4 linked regions of the Homo sapiens genome follow. The protein of the gene in region 1 interacts with the protein of each later gene in a biochemical or structural test. Each region holds a gene or a part of one and is shown on either strand. Other genes may lie near its edges.

Region 1 (6,184 bases):
AAATTGCTCTGCACACATTATGCAGTGTACCTGGTTGTTCCTTAGCATCAAGTTCCACCTTTTTGCTATGGCTTAATTGTCTCTCAAGAGGCAGGACTCAGGGCATCACAACCTGAGAGAAAAATGTGAGAAGGCAGGAAAGATGGGGAGTAAAGCAGAGAAGCTTTCAAGCCAACTGTTTTGTTACCATTTCCAGAAAGACAGGACAGAAGACAATCTGATGGCATAGGCTTGCTCTATGAGCCAAAAGGTCAAGTTAAATATTTGGCCCAATGACTGTTTAGTGAGTTTGTGTTTTTTCCTCTGGGTGGGGGTCTTTGGAATGATGGTACAAATAGATCATGGTCCTAAAGGGGTCAAACTCAGGTTAGAAGGCCAAAGAGAGGGGAGTGCTCCTGTATAGCTTAACACTCCAGTGTCTCTGCAGAACTAGGGTGTGGGAACCATCACTCCAGGCCTGTGCTAGATGACAGTCAGTGCCACGCCATTCCTTGAACAGTTAAGACAGAGAGAGAGAATACCATCTACTGGAAATGGTCTCTAAATCACACAAGGAGAGCTGAAGGCCTTTAAGCAAAAATGACACTCTCATCTCTTAGTATTTAGAGGGGACATATTCTGAAAAACAAAAATCCATAAGCAAGGGCTGGCTGCCAGTTGGAGTAACAGGAACAGGTTTTGCTTTTGCTGTGGCTTAAAGTCCCCACAAAAGTACCTATTTTCCAGAAAGCCACTTGCCACCATCACCTCCACTTAATAAAACTCCCAGGAGCAGCTGATTTTTAGCTGACCTCAAAAGCCTGGATGTGTTTCTAAAACTCAGAGAGGACACCTGTGACATGTCATTTTTCCCATGTGGAGTCTACCTATTCACTGCCAGTGTTGAAATGGGCAAAACTCTTAAGCCAGCCATTGGCCTGAGTCCAGTGTGCTACCCAGTAAACCAGGGCAGATGTGTGGATTCTTTTTACTGATTGGGAGACTGCCTCAGGTTGAAGATTGCTGGCTCCTTTCTTTATTGGATAGGTATTTACTTTTTTTTTTAACCAGTTAATTATAACCTAAATTAAGGCAAGTTTTTTCAAAGAGCAAATTTGATAAATGCTACCAATATGTGTATTTCCACTACAGGAGACTCTTATTTCTGATTATACACAGAAGGGAAAAGGTTTTTTGGTGTTTTTTTTTTTTTGAAACCATTAAACTTGTTTATTTTGGAAAATGCAATATGCACAAGGTGTGTTAAGGAAGGAAAGATGTATTTCAGTACTCCTACTAATACAAAACATTCTGAGAGGGGCTCGGGCAACTTTAATGGAAGCAAAACTCAACAATGAAGAATACTATAGTACAAAATTATGGCCAAAAATACTGTATTTTTAACCAGCAAGATCATTGGGGCATTATTATACAACATTAGGTGTTTTTTGCAAAACTAGTTCCCATCCCCAAACAATAGACAGTACATGCATTTGAATGACATTTTAGGAACAGTAAATATTCTTTTAAATACTGCAAGTTAAAAATGTTTTCTGACAAAACTCCCTAAATACATAGGTCTAGTAAGGGTTTCCAACAGGATGATGGGTGAGGAATCCAGCAAGGAGTTGCATTTAGAGAGTTCTTTGAGGAAAAGAAATCCACCAAAAACGTGTTTCAGTCAAAGTAACCTGGACAAAGTTACGTAGTATTATTCCAGCTTTCTTTCCTGAACTTAAAAATGTTCTACCAACGAATACCTTTCTGTTTTTTCTGTCTACCAAAAGCTTATATAAAAGTCAGAATTTCTTTATCCAAGATCTGATTTTACCCAATAGATGTTTTCATAACATGTAAATGTCATTTGCTATATTGGGTTGGAATCATACGGGGAAATGGAGGACACAGGGTAGATAAGGAAGGCAAGGAGGAAATTAATATTTGAGCACCTACTATGTGCTAGGTGTGTATTCATACTTTGAACATATGATTCTAGAGGCAAGAGTGTTATTGAAAGGGCAGTGATCATTGGGAAGACAGCAGGAAATGGCTATTCTGTGAGAAAAACAAATGACAAGTTTAGGGTCTGTACTAAGTTATCTACTAAACAGCAGGTGTCTGGCTCCAAAAATCTCTAGCTAATCATATACAACTAAGCCATTTCTTTTCCTAATTTGATGGAACCAAAATGAAATCCCAAAGACACAGTTACCAGGACAGATCTATTAACGCTACATATGCTGGAAATATGTAGAGATAGATAAACATACAATATTACTAGTTTTATTTTTTTGTGTTTCTAACCAAAGATATATCTTTGGAAGAAAATATTAATGTATACCAAGCACACCTTATTTGTATCAATTGAGATGTTGATTACCAATTAAGTGGTTTTAAACCCTTATTTAATTTGAAGAAGAGCAGCAATATACATTACAATATTTGGGTACACTTTATTTTTATATGGGTTAACATTCTGCTATATTTCATTTCATTCGTTTTGAGAAACTGAAAACAAAGGGAAATCAAGGGTAATCGGTAGGTGATTTGAGGGAAATTTCCAACCAATATGTGAGTCTTGCAGTATTTCATTATACAGCCCTTTCTTCCCATTATTTATTTTTTTGCAAATAAGTCATTTTGACCCAAATCCAGCATAAATAGCTTTTCACCAATTCCTAACTTAAGACAACTAAAATTTACAATCATGTGGCAGTATAAATTTTAAAATTACAGTTCGTACACTTTGACAATCAAGATAGTCTGAAGTACAAAAAAGTAAATTGCCCTTTAGCTGAATTACCTTTTTAAAATAGGCCTGCTAGTTAATCTACCAAAAAAAAAAAAATACAAGTTTTACGTGTTCTTCAGATTCCTTTTGTAGTTGTCATCTGCTAGTAAACAACATATGCAGGTTCTTAAAATTTTTTTTTCCAGTCTATTCATGACATTCAACAGAGCTCTTTATATGGAAATGTTAAAAACAAAAACTTCTAGGAGATTTATTTACTTTTGAATGGGTGTGTTATTTCCCTTTGTTTCAGATATGAGGCACAAACTTCTGAATTTAAGCTCTGTAAGGCATAGTAGAAACTTCCAATTTACAAATAAGGAATTCTCTGGGGGTTAGAACTGCCATGTCACGCAAAAAGGGAAAAATCATCTGTAAACTGGTACACTGCAATGTGTTAAGTGAGTCATGAAATGGCTGCTTGCCTTGGTATGCTGAAGAAAGGTTTCTGTGTTTTATGTTTTTGTTTTTGAATAAGACATGCCCAAGTCACCATAAAACTCACCACAGGCCTCCATTACCTAAGCATCAACAATAGGAGGCCAGTGGCACACGCTTATAACGCTTGCAATCACAATATAATATAAAGCATGAGTAAACTTTGTTTTTATACAAAACTGAAAAGAATCCCGTCCCGCCCCTAGCCCCTTCAATAAAACCCCGAAGAAACAAAAAAGAAAATCCTTTAGCTTCGATTGACTGGTGTGGCTAAAATTAGGTTTCTATGCATCACTGCTGCTAGGGTGATCAATTTTTTCCTTTCTCAAGAGAAGGGATCTTGTCATGCACCCTACAGGAACAGCGAAGCCACAAACCTCAATTCTGCATAGCAAATTCCATCCCAATTTCATAAAGACAAATATAACAATCTTTCCCTGTTTTGCTCAGCTTCTTCAAGCTTTGAGATCAGGTTTAATTGACTACATTTACTATAGCTCTATTAAATAGAATATCTTGATTCCCTAAAACTGTAACACTTATGATCTTGTGATGAGGTTTTCTCTATACACACTGTAGGCCTTCAAATGTTGTTGTTTAATTTTTTTTTTTTTTTTTTTTTTTTTTGCTGCACCAAATTTAAGAACGCCCTTTCAGGCAAGCAGTGGTCTCTAGCTGTTAAAACATTTCCTTAGTGGATCACAATAGCTTCTAAAACTGCCTTTCTAGTAAAGGCCATCAGAGAGGTAATACTAAACTGTGCATTTGCCAAATAAGAATATGAATTGTATAAAAGCTCATATTCCAATCCTAGATCAAATGGCAAAAGTTCTACAAAGTTGGTTTCCATGTTTGTATAAAAGCTCCGACTGATTTTATGTATTTTGCTATGAAATTACCTTTGGGTCTTATAATCAGTATACCTCTACTCAGGAATGTGCAAATGATTTTATACAGCACGACGCTAGTACCGCTCTGTATGACAGTAAGGTTTTTTTTTTTTCTTCTTTTCTAAATGGAAAGAAAATATCCCTAGTCAGAAATAAACTGACAAATTTACATTCTCCTCTCTTAAAAAAGTAAATAAAATAACATTATTCAAAACGTGAATTAGCTATAGACATACAATACAATTACATAGATACATATCAATACAGCACATTCAATCTGCCAAAAAATTAATGATTACAAAGCCAGTATGGATGCTGCAATATCAAGAGAGATGTATGTACAATGATTAGAGCATTTGTAATTGCACTATACCTACAGGCAGTCTGTTTGTTAAATTACAGGTACTTTCTGAGCAAGGGAAAAAAAAAGTAAGCTGTGTTGTTTGAGGCTGGGAGAATCAAGGATGAGAACATCTCATTACTGTTGGGCGGCTTTGGTACTCATTTAACAGGCCGTGATTTTTCTCCCTCCCCCTTTGTTGTTCCAAAAGAGTGATTTATATGGAAGTTTACACTAGTGCCAAATACCACTGTAGTTAAAATGAGACCAGTATCATGGCCTAATTCTAACGTCCCAGCAGCTTTGAACAATCATGATTTATTTTCTTAAATCAAATTTCAACTCAAGCTGCTTGACAGAAGCTTGTCAATACATGTGCTGTATTTTTTTTGCATTTGTTGAAAAATTGCACATATAGAATTCCAAACATTTCTCCTGGTAGGTTCAGTTACACAAATACATGTTCTATAGAACACTGAGAGGTTACTTTTGAGTTAAGTCCACAAATCTTCCATAAGTTCAACCTAATCAGTTACCAGTTCAAGAAGATCATGAAGGTGGTAAACTAGCAGGAACTTCAGATTTTGGAAATTAAAGGTGTCGGAATAATACTACCAACCAATGTTCCTGGCAGACTTCATTGAACTTAAAGAACCACTGAGAGTAAAACTGGTTTCAAATAAAGAGACATAAACAGATTTCCTGTTAAACCACACAGGATACTTTTTACATTGCCGGTTTGGACACTGAACATGGGACGTGAACACTAACAATGTCATCTTAAGGACAAAGAAAAGAATGGACCGTGAGAATCAAATTTCTAGTTACAACTGTTTGGCAAATGGCATTTCTGGTTCATTCTCAGCCAGTCATTTTAGGCTTCACAGTCTTACTCTCTTACATTTTAAGATACCAGCTTTTATTTTTTAAGTTCGTATTCATTTTATTTGACAAAAAGCCAGCTTTGGCAACACATACCCATAATAAAAGTCATTTTAAAATCGTGGCCCAAACACCAAGAAAAAAAAGAAAGGAAAAGCTTGAACAACAACAACAAAAAAATTAAGAACAACCTATAAAAAGGTTCTGGGTAGCAGCCATTAGGGTAATGTAGTGTCTGTTGGCATCTTTTTTGGCATCTGCAATTGAAAGAGAGGGTAAGAAAAAGAAGCAAAGAAGGGAGGAAAGACAATGGCACGTGGCATTTCAAAAGAAAGGACTCCTGTGTGTCTTTGATCCTGCCTTCTGCATATTTCTCTGAGCAATCAAGCTATGGCTGAAGGTAAACATCTAAAAGAAATGACACTTAACTTTTAGATGGGCATCCACTGTCCCAGTCCAAAGTGAGACAAGACAGTATATTCTATTAAAAAAGAAACTATGTGTGTATCCAAAGCAACACATTTAAAACCGTAAGTATTAATACATATAATCCTTCAGCAAAAACTACAAACTTAAATTAAGCTGATGATGGCTTAAATCGAACGATGTGTCCTGACTGTATCATTTGAGAGAAAAACTTGACCAAGAATGGAACTAGGATAAAGGCCATTGTAACCTGGGAAAAACATCAGGAGGGAGGTATGAATTAGCGGGGGAAGAAAAAAGGGAAATCAGCTTTGTTTTGCTCCATAGAAAAGAAAAAGAGAGAGAGACAGAAAGAAACAAGTCTTATCTTTGTGAGTGCATGACTGAGAATTTAAAATACACTGAGTCACAAGGTTTTGCCTAAAAAAAAGATAGAGA
Region 2 (7,969 bases), on another chromosome or scaffold:
CAATACAGTAGCCTCAGTCAAAAGTGTGTGCTTAAATTTAAATACAATGTAAATAAAGTTTACTTAATTAAAAACTAAGTAAAATAACAAATGTATTTCTTCAGTTGAGTAGCTATATTTCAAATGTTCAATAGCCACATGTGCTAGTGCTTACTCTATTAGACAGCACACACATAAAACATGATCGTCACTGCAGAAAGTACTGTTGGACAGCTTTTGTGCAGATAAGCTCTTTGGATTCTTTTTTGGGACTTTTGAGAGTTGGGTCATCAGAAACCCCAATGTTTGGAGGTACATGAATCTCCTCCTATGGTTTAGCCAATATCTAGTTAAGTTTTCATGGTGTTTTAGGGTGTGTCTACACAATAACCAAAGAGCTAAAGCAATTTAAAAAAATCTTTCCAGCTGGTGGTGAGAAAAAGACTCTATTTTATTTTATTTTTCTGAATTGTTTACCTTGGCTCTATGTAGACACTAGAACAACAACAAAGACCCAGTGAAACTTTTGCAAGGAAAGAGATACCAAATGAAATCATTGGAATACAATTTTTAAATTAATCAAATGAGGCCTCTACCTGGGCAGCCTTCTTTGAGCTCAGGTTACTCCTGTCTTTGTAGACAAAACAAGCAATAATACGTTACAGTATGTTTAAAGAATCTCCCACCAAACATCATTATATTCTGCATATACAAATGATATTACCAAATAAGGAAACCAAAAGCATAGTTCCTGCATTGGAATTTCGACATGCCATTCATATTCTAAGAAACAGAGGAGCAAAGAGGAACAAGCGTGGGTTGAAGAGTCAGACCTGGGCTTTAGTCCAACCTCTGCTGTTAACCACATGTGTGGCTTTGATAATGTTACTTAATCTTGGGAAGCCAAGGTTTCCTCAGTAAAATAAGAATAACAATATCTATTCTATAGATCTACTGTGAGGAGTAAGTGGGACATTCCACACAAAGCATTCCGCATAATGCCTATTTCAATGAGTACCTTATGCAAGCATTAGCATTAATGTCAGTGTTAGCATTTTAACAACCAATGTCATACCCAAAAAAGCCTCAACAAGGATTGCACCTCATCATTAAATAGCAACAGTAGTAATGTTTTTTGAAAGTTAACAATTCTTAAGTAGCATAGTATTGAATTGTCTAAACTCAAAACTTCTAATTTCGTCTTTTTCCCCAGTAAATATAGCCCTCCAATTATGTTTTCTGCTTATTGACTTTGAACAGTATCTAGTTAAATGTGTGTGTGTGTGTGTGTGTGTGTGTGTGTGTACAAAAATAAAGCTGTTATTGGAATATTTGCAAGAAAAGGTTTTATGAAATGCAAATTTGACAAGACAACCTATAATAAAAAGCCACTAATTATAAATATACATATATGTTTATCAATACAGGTATAGGTATAATAGATGCACACATATGTTCATATAAATTCTTCTCTTTTTTTTCTTTTTCTTTTTTTTTTTTTTTTTTTTGAGATGGAGTTTTGCTCTTGTTGCCCAGGCTGGAGTGCAATGGCACGATCTCAGCTCACTGCAACCTCTGCCCTCCTGGGTTCAAGCGATTCTCCTGCCTCAGCCTCCCAAGTAGCTGGGATTACAGGCACGCGCAACCATGCCCGGCTAATTTTGTATTTTTAGTAGAGACGGGGTTTCTCCATGTTGGTCAGGCTGGTCACCAACTCCTAACCTCAGGTGATCCGCCCACCTCGTCCTCCCAAAGTGCTGGGATTACAGGCGTGAGCCACCACGCCCAGCCATAAATTCTTCTTTTGAGGATTGAGTTTTATCTACCCTGTGGTGTTTAATCTACACTTAACTGCATCTTTTTAGCTACTATATCTTAATAAATTATGCTGAAACTTATTTCTAAGCAAAGCTTTTTGCCTCTTCAGGAAGGGAAAGACGTTGACATTTAGTTGATATAGTATTTTCTCAATATAGTATTTTGTGATACACTTATGACATAGTTATTATCTCTTTTATACATAATTATGTTGAGTTTTAGAAAAGCTCAGTGATTCTTAATGCCACATGGCTGGTAAATGGAGTGGTTTACATTTGAACCCAGGTATGTCTCAACCCAAAGCCTCTTCCTACATCACACTGAATGCCACAGCAAGTCACCATCCACTTGCCCTCCTCTCAATTGGCCACTTGCTCTGGAGACACAACAGAGCCTATATCATTCATTCTGTTCCTCCCTTCTCAGTATGTTCCTTTAGACTTGTCCTAGGACTTCTGTCACAAAGTCAAACTGGAGCCCACAATGTTGTTAATTAACCTTGTTACTTTGTCTACATATTTTCAAAGTATTTCACGACATTCACTCAACTATTCATAAATAGAGACAGGCCAAAATCACAGTTCTTTGTGTAGTGTTTGTCAGGATCAAACCCAGTTGGCTTCTTGGTTTTTATTAAAGATATCTCTCTTATTTGCAGAGCAAAAAGGATTTCTTCAAGAGTACTTAAAATTGAGACTTCCTTCTATTTGGCATTAAGCATTTGACACCAAGATCAGCTTCTAACTGAAATACAGTATGTCGTGAATGACTTAATGGATAACCTGAAATCCCTTCTGCCTTAAACAACAGGAAGTATCACAAATATTTGAATCTGCCTCATTCTAAATGCAACTAGCCAAAATATTCCTGGAAAACAAATCTTAAAACTAGTATTTTAAATCTGAAATTTACTCTTACCACCATATTGTTAGTAAAGTTAGCAATTGGGAATTCTAAGCATTTAACCTTTGAGCTGGTCTTGTGTTACTTACAAAGTGATAGCTATATGCCCATTTTACCTGGGGACATTTGCATGCATGACTAAAGGCTCCTAGAGTTTTGCAGATATGCCATATAATAGCATCTTAAATCCAATGTTTTTTTTCCTTGATTTCTTCCCTAAGGTTTGTCTTGCATAGAATAAAACTCTTCTCCAGTGGTATGGTAGATATGTTTTTCCCCACAGTATGATGCCGTTATCATGGTAGTGTCTGGCCCTGTGTACCTGGATTTGACAACTTTTTCCAATATTTTATATGTTTCTAGAAGACCTGATTAGTACAAAATAACTTTTTCAACATTCACATGCTAGAGGAAAAAAGTTTCGCTTCCAAAATCCTAATTAATTCCCACCGATACAGTTCATTAAGTATGGAAGTTTCCCTGACAAAAAGTTGTTGCCTTAGCAGGAAGGGTGCAAGAAAAGAACAACCTGATAGGTGCATTTGTCAGTTGGAGGATTCAGTACCAGAGGACAAGAAGCAAGGGAAGGGGGAGGCTTCACACTTCTGAAGCAGAGCCTCCAAAAGCTTCTTTCCAACAAGGAACAAAAAGAAAATGGTGGCAGGAATGAGTCAAACTCAAAAGAGCAGAAGCTGGCATTCACCAAGGCAACCCAGCCCATAAGACAAGAACGATCACAGTATTTCTCCAGAGAGGCAAGCACACCCCACATCTTCTAGAGCTTCCTGATGCAGGGTGGGAAGATGAAAGAAACGGAGAGTTACTTACTGTTTGGGTCTACGTTTTCACAGAGCTCGGTCTTTGCCTCACCGTTGGGTCTGTCACTGGGTTTGTGTGACAGCCTCGATGACATGGTGGCTGCTGTGACTACCGCCTTGAAGCTTCGCTTCCGTTTCTGGACATTGAGTTCAGGGTGGAAAATGATGATGTACACTTTCGGCATGTATAGCATCCCCAGCGCCACTGATGCACTTAGGTTCATGGAGATTGTAAGCGTGGTAGTTTGTATGTAGAGCTAGGAGACACAACACACAAGGCACTATTACAAATAAAATGACTGCAGTAGGGGTCTGAACACTTAAAGCGATGTCAAGAACGACTATGGCTAGGAGATAAAGCAATCTTCAGGGCATTTTGATAAATAAAGGAAAGCACAATAACTCTGCACAGTTATTGGAGAGCATATGCATGTATTAATTGATTGAATGCTATTGGGTCAATCCATGCACATGCTTGCCCTACAGAAGTCTCTTATATTAAAGTTCAGAGTAAACCTTTAATCATATTTGAAGGACTTCTAATTGAAGTGGCAGCTAAATATAAAGACATGAAGACCATAGAAATCTGTAATCTTGATTAAGGTGTGGTTAGGTTTTATCTTTCATACATGTAAAAGAGGGTTCACACTCCATGATTTCTTCCTACATTGAGATTCTGGGGCCTTTTGAGAAGTCTTTATCTTAATGTATGTCTCTTTTTATATTGTTTTCTAGAAAGGCACGCCTTTTCCCTATCTGCTGAATAGTGAGTTGACTTTCTCTGAAAACTAAGATCTTCTTGCTTAATTCTGTCTTATAAAACACAAGTGACAAGTGAACAAGATCTAGTGATGTTGGCTTGTCTACTCTATATTGTCAAATTACTAATGAGATGCAACGCCTTATTCTGGAGTTGTGTTATTTGCAGTTTGGATGGTTTGTGCTTGCCTACTGTTTTAGACTAATTGTCCACTATTTCCCAACTCCCTGACCCCCTGATCCCCTGTCTTGCCTTCCCAGGGTTCCGTCCATTTGGGCTGTCCTTTAGATCATGAATGAACTGTACTCATTCAATCACAGAACTTTTCTCCATGCCCCTTTTCTTTATTTTTGTTTTCCTACGTATGGAACGTTCCTCCTTTTCTTCTTAGCATGCCCATCCCAGGCTGCCCGCACTCACAGCCTCAAGTCTAGGCCAGCTTCTTTACTGATACACTCTCAAAGGACTTCTTTAGATCATTTGTCTCTGTTGTAATTATGCACTCAGTATCTTGATCATTTTTCTGCCCATTTTCCTGCTAGGCCTTAAGTTCCATGAAGGCAGGATCTGTCTTTCTGGGACATTATTATTGTCTGCAAAGAAGGCACTTGATAAACATACAATGGATAGGCTCATGTGTTTGTCTAATGGACACCTTTTTCCTACCTATAACTCACTGGTTAAACAGCCTATCGCTATACAAAAATTTCCATCAGACATATTGGCTGCCTGGACATTTCTGATCTTAATTCTTCAAACAGAGGCCCTAGTGAAATCAAAGACAACTTTGCCATCTCGTCTGGAAATAATACAGTTTTCTAGCCAACATTAATTTGAATATGTATGTCTCCAAACGGTTAAAAGGAGCTACCAGCTGCTGACTATAATACATAATGAATGTAACATAGAAAGACAAAACAATGTTGAATTAATGACTCTTTAAAGTGTAAATTAGTTCATATTTTTAAAGTTCATATTTCCCTACTAGCATACCTTTAGACTTTTAATGTCATTCCACCTTGCCAGCCTACACTGTTCAAGAAAGGCTTTACATGGTCACAGGGCTTTATAGACATAGACAATTTTTGTCACCACTGTCACCGTACTTATGAGAGATTTGCAAACCATGGCTTAGTTCAAAAAGGAAAAGGATGTCAACAAACCTATGGGATCTTAGGTTTTGTTTCTGTTTCTCTGCTTATGAGTGAATTTTGCAGTTGATGAAATTATTCAGACTTCTTGTTTTATTATTTATAATTATAAATTATACATGCATATATGCTTATGTATATTTGTATGTGTGTACACATATGTTTTCTTTTTTCAACTTTTAGATTCAGGGGTACATGTGCAGGTTTATTACATGGGTATATTGCATGATGCTGAGGTTTGGGGTATGAATAATTCCACACTCAGGTACTGAAGATAGTACCTAATATTTATTTTTTCAACCCTTGCCCACTCTTCTATTAGGCCCCAGTGTCTACTGTCATCTTTATCTCCATGACTACCCAATGTTAAGCTGCACCTTATAAGTAAGAACATGAGGTATTTGATTTTCTGTTTCTGTGTTAATTCACCTAGAAAAATGGCCTACAGTTCAACATGGTTTGTTCTTTTTTATGGATGCATAATATTTCATGGTATATATGTACCACATTTTCTTTATCCAGCCCACTGTCGATGCACCTAGGTTGATTCCATGTCTTTGCTATTGTGAAAAGTGCTGTGAGTACATGCGTCTTTTGGTGGAACAATTTGTTGTCTTTTGACTATGTACCCAGTAACATACATACTTTTTCTTAACAAAGACTACTTAGCAATTTAGGACTCTACAACTATCATGTTTATTTTATGAAGTGTTTAGTTTCATCATTTTTAAACTAGAGACCATCAAGACTTTGATTTTCATTTAAAAAATTTTGCAGTCTCTGGTGACACTTCGAAAGTATGTGAAAACTGAAATAAACTTCACTAATCATATTTTTTCTACAGCCCCTCCATCCCTGAATCCTCTTGACATAGCACAGTGGATAAGAATGCAGATTCTAGAGCTAGTCTATCTGAGTTCAATTCCCATTTACTAGTTTTGTGACCTTGGACAAATTACTTCTCCTCAGCTTCGGTATCTGCAAAATGAGCATAAAAATAGTACCTACCTCATAATGTTGTCTTGCTTGATGGTTAAATAAGTATTTGTAAAGTGTTTAGTGTAGGGCCTAGCACATAGTATTAATAAGTAATATGTAAGTTTTTTTTTTTTTTTTTTTTTTTTTTTTTTTTAAAGACAGAGTCTCCCTCTATTGCCCAGGTTGGAGAGCAGTGGTGCGATCTCAGCTCACTGCAACCTCTGCCTCACGGGTTCAAGCGAGTCTCCTGCCTCAGTCTGCTGAGTAGCTGGGACTACAGGCACGTGCCACCGCGCCCGGCTAATTTTTTTGTATTTTTAGTAGAGACGGGGTTTCACCGTGTTAGCCAGGATGGTCTTGATCTCCTGACCTCGTGATCCTCCTGCCTCGGCCTCCCAAAGTGCTGGGATTACAGGCGTGAGCCACCATGCCCAGCCTTATTTTTTAATAAGTACAGTCATGCATCACTTAATGACAGAAATGTGTTCTAAGAAATGCATTATTAGGTAATTTGTTATTGTGCAACCATCATAATGTACTGACACAAATCTTGGTGGCATAGTCTACTAAAGTCCTAGGCTAAACGGTTTAACCTATTGCTCCTAGGCTACAAACCTTTACAGCATGTTACAATACTGAATACTGTGGGCAATTGTAACACAGTGGTATTTATGTATCTAAATATAGTTAAACATAGGCTCACACCTGTAATCCTAGCACTTTGGGAGGCCGAGGCGGGCAGATCACCTGAGGTCAGGCATTCAAGACCAGCCTGGCCAACATGGCAAAACCCCACCAGGTGTGGTGGCGGGTGCCTGTAATCCCAGTAACTCAGGAGGCTGAGCCAAGAGAATCACTTGAATCTGGGAGGCACAGGTTGCAGAGAGCGGAGATCACATCACTGCATTCCCAGCCTGGGAGACAGAGTGAGACTCCATCTCAAAAATAATTAATTAATTAATTAATTAAAACAAAGAATAAGCATGATAAAAATATAATCTGTTTATCAAAATGTCATTATGTGGCACATGACTATATGTAGGTATGAAGGCTAAGAAGGCTTCAGTCCACAGAGATCTCAGAGGTATTGGTCCCCAGGGACCTGCTCCCACTAAGCCTAGCAGGGAAGCTAGGCTACTGACTCTTTGGCTTTTGGTGAGGTAGGAGGCTCACACTGAAGTTATGAGTTTTCACCCCACCATCTTCTTTAGTACATTCTTTAGTAAATTCTAGCATATCTATATTTAGTCCCATGGTTATTATTTTACCTGATGCTTATTGTATAATGCACTGCCCTGTTTAAGGTTAGGTATTTCACATCACTTTCCTTTATTTGTAACCCAGGAGGCGGAGTTTGCACTGAGCCAAGATCACGATCACGCCACTGCACTCCAGCCTGGGCGACAAAAAAAAAAGTCCGATGTGCAGAACCCATAGCTATAACTATTCTCTCTGTCTTTCAGTTTTCTGAACTGTAAAATCAAAATCATAATAGTTTGTACCTCATGTGGTCATTACGAAGAAGTAACCAATTAATATATGAAAATGGTTTAGCAGAAAGC
Region 3 (8,136 bases), on another chromosome or scaffold:
GACATAAAAAGCTTTGACATTATTATTATTTCTCCATTTACATATTAGGACCTTGTATTTCAGAAGAGATAAGAGACTTTCCCACGGTTACGTACGTAGTAATTGGTAGAACTGGCTGTTAAAAGATATGTCTATTCAAATCAAAACACTGTCCTTCCCACTGTGGCAGGCCTCAAGTGAGTTATGAGCTGACAAGAGACTGGAGTACATACCACAATCTAGTTTCTAGGGAAATTAGGACTATTTATATTACACTGTGGTTAAAAGGAGAGAGAAACTACTCATATCTGCCTTATAAGTTGTAGAAGTATCTACCATGGTAGTTAAGAGTCTAGGTTCTAAAGTCAGACTTCCTAGGTCTCCATCTCAATTCCGAATTTTGTAACTGGAGGAGGTTAATCCATCCTCCAAACTTTAGTATATAAATCAGTAAAATAGCATACAATAATATTATCTACCAGATCAGCTGAGAGTAACAATAAAGCTTAAATAATAAAGAGATTTATTATCTCACTCATTAAAAAGTCTAAAGAAAATTTAAAGGGTTTAAAAAGCTCATGAAGGACCAGGTTTCTTTGCATCTTTCTTGTCAGTGTCCTCTTTACATAACAATATGAGACAGAGAAAGAGAATTTCCCTGAAGACATTAGTCAGAACTGAGCCCCTCATATAGCTCTTAAACCAGTTACAGACAAAGGGGAATGGAATTATTGACATTAGTTTAGGCCAATCATAGTTTGTTCCTTGGAAAGAGAGAGGGGCCATGTTTCCTAAGCATGACGACCACCCAAATTAAGTCAGGGTTTGCTTACAAGAAAAAGAGGGTGGAGAGTGGTGTTGAATAGGAAGGGTTATGTTTTTTAGTGTCTGGGAAGTGCTTAGCTTAGTGCTCTGACCCACAGTGAGTGCTCAATAAAGGTTAGCTTTGCCAGCTCCCTGAGGCTGACATTCCCAGAGGGCAATTCTGTGCTCTCACAAAAAACAGACCTTCCTATTGTTTCAAAAAACAGTACACAGCACCGAACTTGACGGATCACAGGCCTGGCTCACACAATTTTGGATTTCTTACAGATCCCTTTGCATAGCAAAAATCTCCACACTTGGACACAGGAAGGGGAACATCACACACCGGGAACTGTTGTGGGGTGGGGGGACGGGGGAGGGATAGCATTAGGAGATATACCTAATGCTAAATGATGAGTTAATGGGTGCAGCACAACAACATGGCACGTGTATACATATGTAACTAACCTGAACGTTGTGCACACGTACCCTAAAACTTAAAGTATAATAATAATAATTTAAAAAAAAGAATGGGAAAAAAACAAAAAAACTCCACACTTTAGAAACATTTCTATCTTGTATACTGAACAAAAGGTGTGGAAAATGAGGGAGTTAAACCATGCTGCTTCAAGCATCATGCTACATGTTGAAGGTATTTATCCTGTAGTTCTCCTTTAACAAACTGCGTCATTTTGCTGGCTGAAGAAACTCTTGCAGCCCATGTTTGTCTTGAAGACAAATCCTGTTCAGATTTCTACAGCGTTCTCTCCTTTTTACGTCCACGTTCACAGCAACAGCTGGGAGGAATCAGGGATGCTAGATGAAATACTCAACTATCCATTGCCAATAATGGTGGTTACCAAATGACTCCCAACTCAGTGCCATTCAACAATGAACGTTTATTGTCATGTTCATGAGTCTGCAGGTTGGCTGAGTCTGGGAGATCTAGGATGGTTTCTACTGGACTTGCTTCCAAGCTGTAAATGGGGCTTAGGTCTGTCCTGATTGTCTCCTTAGATCAGAGGCTCCCTGAGGCATGTTTATCTCATGGAAATGATAAGAAACCCAAGAGGGAAAGCCCAACCTCAAAGCATATTTTGAGCCTTTGCTAATATCACATCTTCAAACATGCCATTGGCCAAAGCAAGTCACATTGTCCAACATCAATGGGATGGATAAATAAACAGGGTGTCTAGTAAAAACTGTAAGGTCACAAAGAAAAATGTGTGGACGCAGAAAGGAGCAGGGAGCAGAGAGCTATGATGCAATAAACTACCACAGGAGGCTCAATCTACTTCTTATTTTGCTTAGAGCTCATTGTAACTCTCCAATCTCCTCTTCTAGTGAGCGCAGCCCTGTCTTGCCTTCCTAAGCCACTGTGACAGGTAAAAACTATTTGGCCAATAATCTTTCCAGTAAATAACAAAGAGATAGAAGGAGAAAAGGAAAAGAAAGGAAAGGAAAGGAGGAAAGGAAAGGAAAGGAAAGGAAAGGAAAACAATTTGGTATGATCAGTTGTAAGGACAATTGAGAAGTTCTGGAGCCCTGGAAGCAGAGTTTCATTGCAGTACTCTGAAGTAGAGAAAATCGACTTGAGACGGTGACTGATACCTTCTGTGAGGTAATTAGCAAGCCAAGGCTGCTGGCTAGAGGGACTGTGGACCATTCAGGTTTTAGTTTAGGGACATGTGATCAAAATGAAACCAGTCAGTTTTTCATGAAATTCTTTGTAGCAATTGGCTTCCAAGCACAAGGCAAGACCCTCAAATGACAGCAAGAGTCATGGGTCTTGTTCACCAGGTTATCCATGGTGATTACAATAGTGGCTAGTATACAGCTGGCTACCAATAAGTATATTTTAAATGCATTGAAATATTTAATAGCAAATTTCTGTATTGGATTTTGGTAATCTTTTGACTGAGTTCATAAGCATTGGGCCTTGGAGTCCTGAGGGCAGAGAACAGGGAGAATGAAGGATTAAGAGAATGTAGTGTTTCTCTCCATTTTTCTCTCTTCGTATTCTTTCTTCTTTTTAAAAATCAACCTTTTTGAGATATAATTTATTTAAAACAAACTGCACTCAATTTAGGCGTACTTACAGAACTTACAAGTTTTGATAAACACACACACGATATAGAACATTTCCGACATGCTCATCAGGTGCTCGTAGCCCTTCCCTGTCCATCTCTACCTATCCCTGGCCACAGGCAAGCTTTCTGTCAACATAGAATATCTTGCCTATTCTGCAATTCCTACACATGGAATCAGGCAGCATACAGTCTATCGTGTCCGGCTTCTTTTACAAAGCTTAAAGTCGCGATTCATCCCTGATCTTGCATGCCCACTCATTTTTATTGTGGAATAGTATTCCAATATTTGGGCATACCACAGTTTGTTTATCCATTCACCTGTTGATTGACATTTGCAGGCTACTAAGAAGAAAGTTCTTCACATCACTTTACAAGTCCCTGCAGACTTGAACGTTTTCATTTCTTTTGGACAAATACTTAGGAGTGGAATTTCTAGGTTGTATGATAAGTAAATATCTTACTTTATAAGAAACTATTCTCCAAAGTGGTTTTACTATTTTATATTCCCTCCAGCAATGAACAAGAGTTCCAAGCTATTTCTCTCTCCGCCCCCCCACCTCCCGCGTGTGTCTCTCTCTCTCTCTCTTTCTCTCTCTCACACTCACTCACTCTCTCTCTCCCTCTCCTCTCTCTCCTTAATAAAAAAAAAAAAAGAGTTCCAGTTGCTCCACATCCTTTCAAGCATTTGGTATTACCAGTCTTTAAAATTTTATCCATTCTGGTCCTCCTCTTTCCCTTCTTCCCTCCCTCCCTCCCTTTCTTTCTTGAATTGAGAAATGTTTGTGGAAGGAGTGAAGACAAACATTCCTGGACCTATGTTCCTAAATGAGCAAGTTTCTATTAATAAGACTCTCCCCCACCCGCCACACATCCTACACACTCAAGGAGAGGAGCGGGAGAGGGCACCCTCTTTCTTCCTCGGAAAATAAAACCTTTGCTTTCTTTAGGATGGGCTTTCTGTCTCGAAAGCACAACGTAACCGTTTGCCCGGGTTTCAAGATCAGCGCGCTGCAAACTCTCAGGCGCGGCCAGGTTTCCTCAAAGAGCCTCTCAACTGCGCTCTTCTCTGCTGATAAATGATAATTCTCTTCAAAAAGCTGGTTTGTGGCTGGCGCTGGAGAGCTCCAGCTAGAGCCAAAAGCCAGGGGTTGCCTCTTTGGTTCCTCCCGATGGGCCCCTTTTCCCAGCCAGTTGGGATCCAAAGACGCTCCGGAGCTCGAGCCCAAATTCCCAAGAAAACCCCAAAGAGCGTAAGGCTCCTGGGGACCCCTAGCACCTCTGCAACCAGGGCACGGGGCATGCTCAGAGCGAATGCGGGAGGCAGGCGTTGGCTGCAATGGGGCTCGGGAGCCAGGAGGTGCCGCTGCGTCCCCGCTTCCTGGCGCCTGACCCAGCGTGCAAAGTTGGGCTGGGAGCCGCGGGGGGAAGGAAGGACCCAGCGAGCGAGGGTGGCGGGGAAGGGGGGCGGGGGGGAGGAGGAGGGAGGAGGGAAAAGAGCGGTTAGGGGGGGCGCCGGGCGTGTGTCACTCGCTCTCTCCCTCTGTGTATAGAGGATGTGCTGAATGGTGCGCTTTGAGGCGGCGGCGGCGGAGGAGCAGAATCCGCCGCGACTGGCAGCCTCGGCTGACCGGCTCGGCTTCTCTTCGCCTTCCGAGGCTCCTCATCCACCGCGGGCTCCAGACCTCGCGTCCCGCCCGGGGCATGGCCGGGCGCTGCGCCCCCGCGCGCTCTGCCTGCTGAGCGGCGCCGGAGGGAGGTGCGGAGGCCGGGAGGCCGGGGAGGCCGGCGGGGAGCAGAGTCGAGCGCCTCCGGAGCAGAGAAAGGAGCCCGCGCCCCGCGCCCCGCGCCCCGCGCACGGTCCCCAGTCCCTGCCGCGCTCGCCCGGGCCGCCCGGAGCCCAGATGAGCCCAGATGGCCGGGGCTCAACCCGGAGTGCACGCCTTGCAACTCAAGCCCGTGTGCGTGTCCGACAGCCTCAAGAAGGGCACCAAATTCGTCAAGTGGGATGATGTAAGTATTGGGGCGGCCCGAGTCGGGGCGCTGGCTCGGGCACCGGGCAGGGCGGGCGTCGTGGGGGTGGGGCAAGGGGCGCGTTATGCAATGGGCGCACTGGGAGCGGGCAGGGGCAGCCTCGGGCGCACAGGTTGGCATCTGCCAAAGCGGATGTCCAAGGGCAGAAGCTTTGCGCGCGCTCCTGTTTCATCGGGCTTCAGTAGTTGCCATCCTTTCTGGGTCTGGCAGGCGCCCCCTGAGGGTCTTACATCTTTTGGGCCAGTGGAGAGGGAGGGGCAAGCTTTGCCTGGTGACAGGTCCTGAGAGTTCGGAAAGTAGGGAGTGTGAAGTTGGGACCAACTGGAAAGCGCCTGGTGTGAACAAATCGCGTCCCTCTCCGCCTGCGGACGCACCCCCTATTACCTCTTTTGCCCGATTTCAAGAAGGAAGGACCTGAAGTTCAAAACACTTTAGTGATTGCGAACCCTCTTGGCGCTTTTGTGGGAGCCAAGGCGGCGGAGGACACAACGGTCCAGCCAACAGGTGGTCGTTGATGCCAAACTTCAGCGCCTGGCTCCGGAGTGAGGGTCCCTGAAAAGGGCTGCGGGGACACATCTGGGGAGGGCGTGAACAGAATGGGGGCCCTTGAGGGGTCCTGGAGGGCTCATGGGCCTGCAGGCAAGTGGGGAGGGCTGACTTTTGAGAACTGAGCTGATTGGAGTCTTCTGCCTGAAATAGACAGGTTGAGAGTTTGCCCCACGATTTACCTGCACCGTTTGCCAGGTAGGGCAGAGCCTAGCCCAGCGCCGGGGTCTCTAATGCTTTACGAGCGGCCCAGACCCCAGGACTTCAAATGACTTCCCCTTCCCCTCTACCCCAGTTGTCTTCAAAACACGTAAATTAGTTATCCAGCTGAAAACATGCGAATCTTCGGATGGAGAACATTATGGTATCAGTTTTATGTCCTGGGTGTCATTCTAAAGGTTCGATAAGAAAAACCTACTGAAATAAACCCGAGTTGCCAGGCTCTAAGCAAATTTAAGTCCAAATGACTAATACATCTCTTAATCAGAAGGAATTATAGGAGAATGAGGCGTTCTTCTTGCCGAAAAGATTTTCCACCTAGTAAATTATAGCCTGTTATCCTCTAGGGTATTTTTCTTTAATCTTCTTAAGCCATTTTCCAGTGTCTGAAAACAATTTAAATATTCCAGGTAGTGAATCCAATTACTTAGCTGAGTGCGTCTGTGTCTATATTTTGTCCAGCTGGAAGCGCAAACGGAACTTGGAGTATGAACCACAGCTTCCTTGAAAGCTCGTGCCAATTATTAAATGCTGTAGGCAAGGATGTAAACATACATCTTTTTACCATGGGCTTCACACTTTTCTTCTTTCTGTTCCAGTCTAATTGTACTGAATGTTTCTGTAAATGGAATAGAATCTAAACAATAAATTCAGACGCAGATTAAATGCTTTGTGTCAGGGAAAAAAAAGACAAAGAAAATGCAGTTCAGCAATAAACAAGACGGTCTTGCCCATTTTGAGATCCTTGAATAGAGAGGTGATGTGATGATGGATTTACTGAGAAAGAGAGTGAAGGGCAGAGGAAAGAGAAAGAGACTTTGCAGAATTTAGAAAAGGGAGTTTCAGCGTAAGCTCTGGATTTGTATACAGTGATGATTCTAAACTGTATTTTAAATAATTCTCTATAATTTCTTGTTTGGGAGAGAATAGCCAACATCACATTGAGAATGAAAGTATTCTATGAAAACACATTTTGGTATATCCAGGTAGATGACTTTCATTATGTGCATTTCTGTAACACATATTTCTTGCTCACCTATTACTGCCAATCCTAGACTGGATTCTGGGGTGGTGAAAAAAGTAGACAAAATCCCTGCTGTTACGGACCTTACATGCTAGGTGGAGGAGACAAAAATCATCAAAAACACCAATGAGAGAGAGATTGGGTGATGCATTGAGGGTAATAGAGAGGACGTTAGTGAAATACCAACCAAAGAAGAAGTTGAAAAGAGCTCCTTCTGAGCATTGCAGCAGTGAGTTTCCAAGGAAGCCCTCCTGAAAGAAAGGACATAGTCACTAAGGAGAAGACCAGAAGAATTTCAGGTCTTTTTTAAAAAAAAAAAAAAAACCTAGACTGCACTCAGGAGTCAAGTTATCTGGAATATAATGAGCTATCTTGCAGGCTCTTTGGTTCTCTGGGTCTTCATGCTGATCAGTGGACTACAAGGGACCCAGCCTTTCTTAAGGTTGCCTTTCTCTTCCCCAGGCATCCCTTTTCTACTCTTCTCAGCTCGTATTTGCCCTTCCAGAATCAAGCCAGTTCAAGTTATCTGGCTATTTATATTGTACCTTAGTGAGACAGTGTGTTGAAGACAAAAAAGAACCAGATCTTGAATCAAAGGCCTGAGTTTACCTCCTAGTTCTTTCACCAGTAAGCTGCATGACTTTAGGCAAATCACTTAGCTTCTCTGTATTTTTGCTGCTTCTTGTGTAAAAGCGTGGTAATGTTACAGGACATTCAAAAATGATGAATTTGGGGCTGTTTAGGATGTGAAGAAATTATCTCTTGTTCCTGAAGTGATTAAAGCAGTATAATCACTGGTCTTGTTGTCTTGACCACCATATGGAATGGAAGATGTCACCCAGAGGTTGCAGTGCCATGCATAATTTGCTGGCCACCTACCAAGTCACAGTGAGGCTGTGGATGCTCTAAGGGTGGTAGTCGAAAGCTTTAACATAGGCACTAAACAATCACAACAGACAGCAGGGGGGTAATAGATCCTGGAGATACCCTGTTGTACCAGGGCCAGGCGTTAATATTTTTGCTGCTTGGTCATGGGGAGGTCTGGGAGTCCCCAGGGTCTGTGGATGGGTGGGTAGGTAGCTGGAGTTTTTTTGACTATTTCAGTATTTTAAAACTCATGGTGTATATTGTCTGAACATCAAGGCTATACCTGTCCTTCTGAACTTGGCATGAAGATAAAGGACTGACCTAATGATATTTAAAAAATTCAACCTCATGTCTTTGCTTTTGTTTTGCATTTGTCTGTTAGCAGGCTCTGGTGGTAGGAGGTGGGTGTAAAGGACTATGGGTATTTGTGGGAGAATTCTGGTGAGGTAGACAGTGGAAGGAGAGTTACTTTCTTGATCTAAGCTAGGGAGCTTGGGAGATTGTGAGAGAAGCTCCTCTCTCTTCTGGATCTTGGCCTTGGTCTATATTGGGCAGGACATGGAGAGAAAGAGCAAG
Region 4 (7,969 bases), on another chromosome or scaffold:
CTACAAAGGATAGAAGATTTGTTCTAAAGTTGAAAACATAATTTTTTTTGGTGGGTTTTGGTGGGGGGGGGGTAGTTGTTGTTTTCTGACCTTTTCCCCATTTAGCTTAAATTAGTTCTTTTAGACAGCATCATGCAAAAGTGATGCAACTGTCTTACTGATATAGATGCCACCTCTGTTCATTTATGAAACACAACTTATTTAGCCTCCCCAAACCTACAATACTCCAGAAGGATTCAATTTAGGTAACTGAAACACAGAAAGACAAATAAAGTTCCCAAAGTCACCACTGGCTTTTTTATTCACACCAAGCAACACTTCATATCAGTTATTCACTTACAGTTTATGCACAGTGTAATATTATTACTAATTCCGAACTTTCATTGGAAAGATAAAGTGAAAACAAATGCTGTCATAAAAATAGAACACTAGGCCGGCGCGGTGGCTCACATCTGTAATCCCAGCACTTTGGGAGGCCGAGGCTGGCGGATCACCTGAGGTCAACAGTTCAAGACCAACCTGGCCAACATGGCAAAACCCCGTCTCTACTAAAAATACAAAAATAGCCGGGCGTAGTGGTGGATGCCTGTAATCCCAGCTACTCGGGAGGCTGAGGCAGGAGAATCGCTTGAACCCAGGAGGCGGAGGTTGCAGTGAGCCGAGATTGTGCCATTATACTCCAGTCGGGGCAACAAGAGCGAAACTCCGTCTCAAAAAACAAAATCAAAAACAACAACAAAAAAACACTAAGTAAGTAACGAAAAAACCACCAGCCCTCCATTCAAGTTTAATTAGTGGTAGGGATTTTTCCTCTGGTGGGGGGGTGGGGGTGGGAATGTGTCTATTTTTTAAGTAAACTCCTTATGCTTTTGGTGGCACCGTGGAAGCAGAATGAATAAAGCCAGCAGTTTTTTTCTACTTTTTAAGCAGATTATTGCTCACACTAGGAAAGCAAGGGAGTGAATTTTATCAAAGCCTGGGGGCTATCCACACTGTTATTTTGCTCTTTCCTGTGGTGTAGGAGGTTCTATTCTCATGCTGGGGAGACGAAAATACGTCAAAGGAACACCAGGGGTGTTCTGGAAGATCGCTTTGCCACTTATCTACCATGTGTATGCCACTATCTTCTGGAGGTGGATTAATTCAATATTTTGTAAATTAGATTTTGAGAAAAATTGGGCAAGAGTGCAAACCTTTCCCTCCACCCTGCCACACACCCTGACTCCCTGGTTTAAATGGTCTCTCACTGGAGTGACAAATTGATGAGTTTACAATCAGCCCTTCCCAACACTCAGTTTTAGCTCTAAACTCAAAGAGGTTCATTTTAACATTACAATTATGCATTTACTCAGGAGTAGTGGTAACCAAATAATACTACTCTATTCTCAGGAACTACCAACTCATTGAGAGCCCTGTAATCATACCACAATTATTCTTGTGGCAAATTATAATTAAGTACCTCTTCACAATCAAAGACTCAAATTACAGGATAAAAAATAAAACCCTAAATAAATTGAGTACTGTGACCAGTAAATGGGGTCAGAAGCATCCCAACAAACCATGTCTGGTGTACTTCTCTTAGCCGAATAAATCGCAGGCAACATTTTATCTTTAGTTTTGTTGCAGGCTCTTGGTGGATACATTCCCTGCTTAGACCCACCATCTGTTTCATTCTTGTCCCCTGCTCTTACTTCCTATAAGACAGGTCCTTCTGGAAGCTGCCTCTACTCTTTCTCTGTTTTAGAACAAATCCAGTTTGTACAAGAGGAAGTCTTCCTCTCTCTCAAGTATCTGTGTTTGGGCAGGGTTTAGTGCTGCTCTGACTATGAGGAAGTAAGCAAGTCTCTCACTAGCCATCGCCCCTCTGAGCAAAAGGTGAAATGGCCTCCACCTCTAGATCATTGAGCTAGAGGTCTACCAGAATTGCCATGATTTGGTACCACCTTCTTTGACTGCTTTTCTCCTGTTTCTTATGATCCAGTCCAGACTCACACAGCCTGAAAATGTGGTAGCTCTTCCTTAGGTGCCACTGGTCCATCACTCAATAATGTGAAAGGAAAGGGATCCATTTTTGAGTCCTCCAGAAGGTTGGTGTGTAACACACAGCTCTGAGTTAAAAAGTAGTTAGAGGGTAAAGCTTCTGTGGGTACTTATTGTGAAAGGCCCCATTTTTTTTTTTTTTTTTTGAGACGGAATCTTGCTTTGTTGCCCAGGCTGGAGTGCAGTGGCACGATCTTGGCTCACTGCAACCTCCATCTCCTGGGTTCAAGCAATTCTCCTGCCTCGGCCTCCCAAGTAGCCGGGATTACAGGCGTGTGCCACCACACCTGGCTAATTTTTGTATTTTTAGTAGAGGTGGGGTTTCCCCATGTTGGCCAGGCTGGTCTTGAACTCCTGACCTCAGGTGACCTGCCTACCTTGGCCTCCCAAAGTGCTGGAATTACAGGTATGAGCCACCGTGCCTGGCCAGTAAAGGCCCCAATTTTTTTAAAACAATTTCAGTAGCCTACAGAGTCGGTTTGACCACAAAATATGCACAATGATGGCTAACCCTGAGCTCCACTCAGGGTGAAGGGTGGAAATGGAAGTGACTTGAATGTCTCAAACATACAGACACACACACACACACACACACACACACACACACACCACTGTTGTTTATAGAAAGAAAGAAATGGGGGAGGAGAAAAAATAGACACAGAGCTCTTCATTTAAAATATGGAGTTCCAGTGTTACAATGTCCCCTTTATTAAATTATAAATGCAAAGATTTTTACAGGGCCACCTTTTGCAGCCTCCCAGCTCCCTATGGAGCAACAGAATTCAGAAAGACGAAGCTTATTAACAAGAGTGCAGCCATCATACAAACTGCAGTATGCCAAGGAATTAATAGAAATAGCACTTGCAGAATCAGTAAACTAAACCATCTTGGGCTCTTATCTTCGCTCATAAGATAAAATACTATTAAGAATAATAAGTCCAGGCGCAGTGGCTCATGCCCGTAATCCCAGCACTTTGGGAGGCTGAGGCTGGCGGATCACTTGAGGTCAGGAGTTAGAGACCAGCCTGGCCAACATGGTGAAATCCCGTCTCTATTAAAATACAAAAAATTAGCCGGGCGTGGTGACAGGCGCCTGTAGTCCCAGCAACTCAGGAGGCTGAGGCAGGAGAATCGCTTGAACTCGGGAGGCGGAGGTTGCAGTGAGCCAAGATCGTGACACTGCACTCCAGCCTGGAGTCTCAAAAAAAAAATAAAAAATAAAAATAAAAAAAAAAAAGAAGAAGAATACCAGAGCAAAATTCAGAAAACTACACAGCCAGCCTATGATTGGGAAGAGTCTATGAGATATGATTTAAAATAAAATAACCAGTCAACTGTACTTCAAATGACTACTTAGCCAAAATATCCAAGAAGTAGTGTTTTCTCTTGATTTCTCCTTGAAAGCACTACTCAATTGGCTAGGAAGATTCTGGCCATTCCCTGTCTTTCCTTAGGGGGATGGAATGGAACTTCTGTTCCTTTCAGTGACTTCTACCTGACAGGCATTTTACAGGCATTATTTCATTTATTCCTCACAACAAACAGATGAGGAAACTGACACAGAGGTTATGTGACTTGTCCAACCTCATCCATCTGTAGCTCTTGGTATATCATCTATAGCCCTTGCTTTTTTTGTGGTGTTTCACTGCCTACCGGAGGGATTTTTGTTCGTTTATTTGTTTTTTGGTCTTTGATGAGGTTGATGCCATCTGCCTTGGGGCCCCTGTCATTCTCCATGGCTATCATCAAAGAGCAGTTGTGACAAACTCCTCTCCATTTTCTAGGAATGTTCAGCAAGAGAGGAAATGGTGGTAAATACAGGAGATAAGAGAGTATTCAAGATCCTAAGCTCTTTCCTCTGCAATATTCCTCCAGGCTGGTAAGGATGATCTGTCTCTGGTAACTGTCAACTATACTTTTTTTGCACTTGAGGACTCTTCTTAGTCTTGCCAGGTTTTCTTACATTTTCCCTCTTTAAATCATTCCCAAGGAGATTCTGTCTAACTAGTGAATTTCTAGAGTCACTTGTTGTTTCCTTTCCTGGATGTTTCATTGTTGATGGAATGAAAGCACAGTGTTTAGGTGGAACATCCACCCTTCTCTGTCCCTAGGGTTCTTATTGCTTACTGTGAATATAAAACTTTGATCAAATATACCTTCTATTTTTTTGAGACAGGGTCTCACTCTGTCACCCAGGATGGAGTGCAGTAGCAAGATCACCACTCACTGCAGCCTCCACCTCCTGGGCTCAAGCGATCCTCCTGCCTCAGCCTCTCAAGTAGCTGGGACTACAGGTGTGCACTACCACACCCAGCTAATTTTTAATTTTTTTGTAGAGACACGGGTCTCACTTTGTTGCCTAGGCTAGTCTCAAACTCCTGGATGCAAGTGATCTTCTTGTCTCAGCCTTCCAAAGTGTGGGGATTACAGGCATGAGCTGCTGCACCTGGCCTCAAATATACTTTGTTTTATATTATGAAATATTTCAAATAGAAAGTACAGGGACTATAACATTACAATCTTGGACTCACCGCTTAGCTCTACAAAATCCTAAAATTGTGCCATATTGCCTCACGTGTTAAGAAGTGAGATACAATCTATATAATCAAGACCCCTTTATGTACTCCAAAATCTTAGTCTTCTCCCTCCATAGAGATTACCAATATCTTGAGTTTGGTGTTTATCATTCCTAGGTATGTTTTCATATTATTATTACAGATGTAAGTATCTATAAAAGATATATAGTATTGGTTTACATGTTTAAAATTTACATATGGCCAGGTGCGGTAACTCAGGCCTGTAATCCCAGCACTTTGGGAGGCTGAGGCGGGTGGATGACAAGGTCAGGAGTTTGAGAGCAGCCAGCCTGACCAACATGGAGAAACCCTGTCTCTACTAAAAATACAAAAACTAGCTGGGCCAACGCTACTCTCCCAGCTACTCAGGAGGCTGAGGCGGGAGAATCCCTTGAACCCGGGAGGCAGAGGTTGCAGTGAGCCGAGATCTTGCCATTGCACTCCAGCCTGGGCAACAAGAGTGAAACTCGGTCGCGAAAAAAAAAAAAAAAAAAAAAGAAAATTTATATATATATATATGGTACACATTCTCCAGCAACTTGCTTTTTTCCCCTCAATATAATATGTTAGGATTTATTTATCTGGCTAGTTCTACTTCATATGTTTTAATTCATTTTTATATGCATAAAATATTCTATATGATGAATACATTCCAATATATTTATTCATTCTCCTGTTGATGGACATTTAGGTTGTTTGCTTTCAGTGATAAACAATGCTGCTGTGAACATTATTTTGATTTTTTGATCTCAGAATGAATTCTCAGTTACTTAGACAAACTGGCAAACCTAGGTCCAGCTTATCTTTTGGACTATGCAATTTGCATCATTCCTTCTTGCCTTTTCAGTCCTGTCTTCCTGATGCTTCACTATGAAATGTGGTAGAATTATCAACTATCTCTAGTGGGAGGTTAAATTTGGCCTACGGAAAATCTCTTCCCAGTCCCAAGAAGCATCCTTCACGTTCTAACTGAGATTTCAATTGAGAATTCCTTGGCCTTGGGACCAGAAGAGAACGTGTTAAGAACTGAAATACTATCTATATAATCAAGACCCCTTTATGTACTCCAAAATCTTAGTCTTCTCCCTCCTTAGAGATTACCAATATCTTGAATTTGGTGTTTATCATTCCTAGGTACGTTTTCATATTATCATTACAGATGTAAATATCTATAAAAGATATACAGTATTGGTTTACATGTTTAAAATTTACATATGGCCACGTGTGGTAGCTCATGCCTGTAATCCCAGCACTTTGGGAGGCTGAGGCGGCTGGATGGCAAGGTCAGGAGTTTGAGAGCAGCCAGCCTGACCAACATGGAGAAACCCTGTCTCTACTAAAAATACAAAAATTAGCCTGGCGTGGTGGCGCGCACCTGTAATCCCAGTTACTCAGGAGGCTGAGGCAGGAGAATTGCTTGAACCCAGGAGGCGGAGGTTGCAGTGAGCCGAGATCGTGCCACTGCACTCCAGCCTGGGTGACAGAGTCAGACTCCGTCTCAAAAAAAAAAAAAAAGAAAAAAGAAAAAAAAATCATACCCACAGCAACAAAGCAACCTTTAATCTTGTTAAATTCCCAAGATGCTTTTGTTCGGGCCCCAGTGAAACCCAATTATTTTATGATAAGCTTCATAGTCAAGGCTACAGGGGACCAAATTTGTGATGAAGGCATCAAGCCAAACTCAATTTTCGAAAGCTGCATGCTGACCAGGGAAACTCTCCTGCTGTAGTCATTTACAGGAGGCCTTAGGGCTCTCTGGTTCTTCCACAGCAGTTCATGTTTTATTTATTTATTTATTTATTTATTTATTTTTGAGACAGAGTCTCGCTCTGTCATCCAGGCTTCGGTACAGTAGCGCAATCTTGGCTCACTGCAATCGCTACCTCCCAGTTTCAAGCAATTCTCTTGCCTCAGCCTCCTGAGTAGCTTGGACTACAGCCGCACACCATGACACCTGCCTCGGCCTCCCAAAATGCTGGGATTACAGGCTTGAGCCACCGCGCCTGGCCTTATGTTTTTAGCATTTTACATTTTTCTTCTGTGGTTTTGGAAACTTCTAGGTCTCTGTGATTCATCATCTCTTTTTGTCTTGCATTAGCGACAATATATTCTGGCCAACTGATGATGGAAGGAGAGCCAGAGAGCCAATCTGCAAGTTTATAGTCAGTGCCAGATCAGATCAGTGGTAATACTTTCAATATTCTCCCTCTGCTCTGAGGGTGACTGCTGGGGTGTCTGTCTTTCACTCTGGACTTGTGTGCCCTTTTGGCCTTCTTTTTCAACCTAGTTTTTGTTTTCCTTGGCTTAAACATTTTATTTATTTTTTCCATCGATATCAAAATAACACACGCAGCTGGGTGCAGTGGGGTGCACCTGTAGTCCCAGCTACTCAGGAGGCTGATATTGGAGGATTGCTTGAGCCCAAGAGTTCAAGGTCAGCCTGAGAAACATAGGGAGACCCCCATCTCAAAATAAAACAAAATATAGTAAAATAAAACATGCTTATTGTAGAAAATATGTCAAGTACAGGGATATAAAAAAGAAAAAATCATTCATAAACTCATCCAGAGGCATTAATATATCGGCATATTCCTTCCATTTTTTTCTGTGTGTGTTTCTTATAATATTTGAGATCATATTGCACATTCAGTTAATTTACCTATTTTTCGTAACATCTATGTATGTATGTATGCATGTATGTATGTATCTATCCATCCATCCATCCGTTCAAGGTACCTTTTTCCAAAAAAAGATCTAATGTTCTTATTTAACATTATTCCTAATTATTTTCCCATGTTATTAGGATCTCTATACAAGCATCATTTCCAGAGTCAAAAAAGTATGTGCATTTTGCATTTTGATACATACTGCCAAAATAGTTTCCAGAAACATTGTCCCAATTTCAGTTCCAAATAGTTTTAGAGAGCCCCCTTTCTCATTATCCTTATCTCTTTTCTGGTCCATTTCTAATCATTTTTAAAACTCTGGTTTTACTGCAGACAAATCTTTTTTTTTTTTCATTGAGTCAATGATCTTAAACTCCAGTATATTCCAACTTCCAGCTTGTCTAAAACTTAACTTCTCTTGACTCTAGAATTTCCTTCTTCTAGGGTGAGCTAACAGACTACAGTTTGTTTTCAGTTCAGGGAGGTAGGGCAGTGAGAGGAGCTTCTCCTTGAGATTCAAATAACCAATATAATCCTAAAGACATCTTGTGAGAACTTTCTAAGAGCGGAGAGAAGAGCCTGGTATTAAAGCTTCTGGGTTTCCAATGCTCTCAGATTGCCCTCAGCCACTGCACATGAATCTCCATAGAAACTGAAAGTCACACGTGGCCCAATTGTTTCAGGGTC

The links.
Region 2: the proteins of GNAQ (region 1) and GRM7 form a complex in vitro, tested with the Homo sapiens proteins (one study listed by BioGRID).
Region 3: the proteins of GNAQ (region 1) and PLCB1 form a complex in vitro, tested with the Homo sapiens proteins (2 studies listed by BioGRID, with this or other methods).
Region 4: the proteins of GNAQ (region 1) and BTK form a complex in vitro, tested with the Homo sapiens proteins (one study listed by BioGRID).

What each region holds. Positions count from the first base shown.
Region 1 is NC_000009.12:77,714,918-77,721,101, forward strand, and holds the end of GNAQ (guanine nucleotide-binding protein G(q) subunit alpha), read right to left. Parts: 3' UTR 1,180-6,184; downstream 1-1,179.
Region 2 is NC_000003.12:7,675,855-7,683,823, reverse strand, and holds part of GRM7 (metabotropic glutamate receptor 7 isoform a precursor), read right to left. Parts: intron 3,800-7,969; coding exon of another isoform or gene 3,776-3,799; coding exon 3,529-3,775; intron 1-3,528. UniProt on the Homo sapiens protein: G-protein coupled receptor activated by glutamate that regulates axon outgrowth through the MAPK-cAMP-PKA signaling pathway during neuronal development.
Region 3 is NC_000020.11:8,127,868-8,136,003, forward strand, and holds the start of PLCB1 (1-phosphatidylinositol 4,5-bisphosphate phosphodiesterase beta-1), read left to right. Parts: upstream 1-4,398; 5' UTR 4,399-4,784; coding exon 4,785-4,883; intron 4,884-8,136.
Region 4 is NC_000023.11:101,375,916-101,383,884, forward strand, and holds part of BTK (tyrosine-protein kinase BTK), read right to left. Parts: intron 2,109-7,969; exon of another isoform or gene 1,944-2,108; intron 1-1,943. UniProt on the Homo sapiens protein: Non-receptor tyrosine kinase indispensable for B lymphocyte development, differentiation and signaling. Binding of antigen to the B-cell antigen receptor (BCR) triggers signaling that ultimately leads to B-cell activation.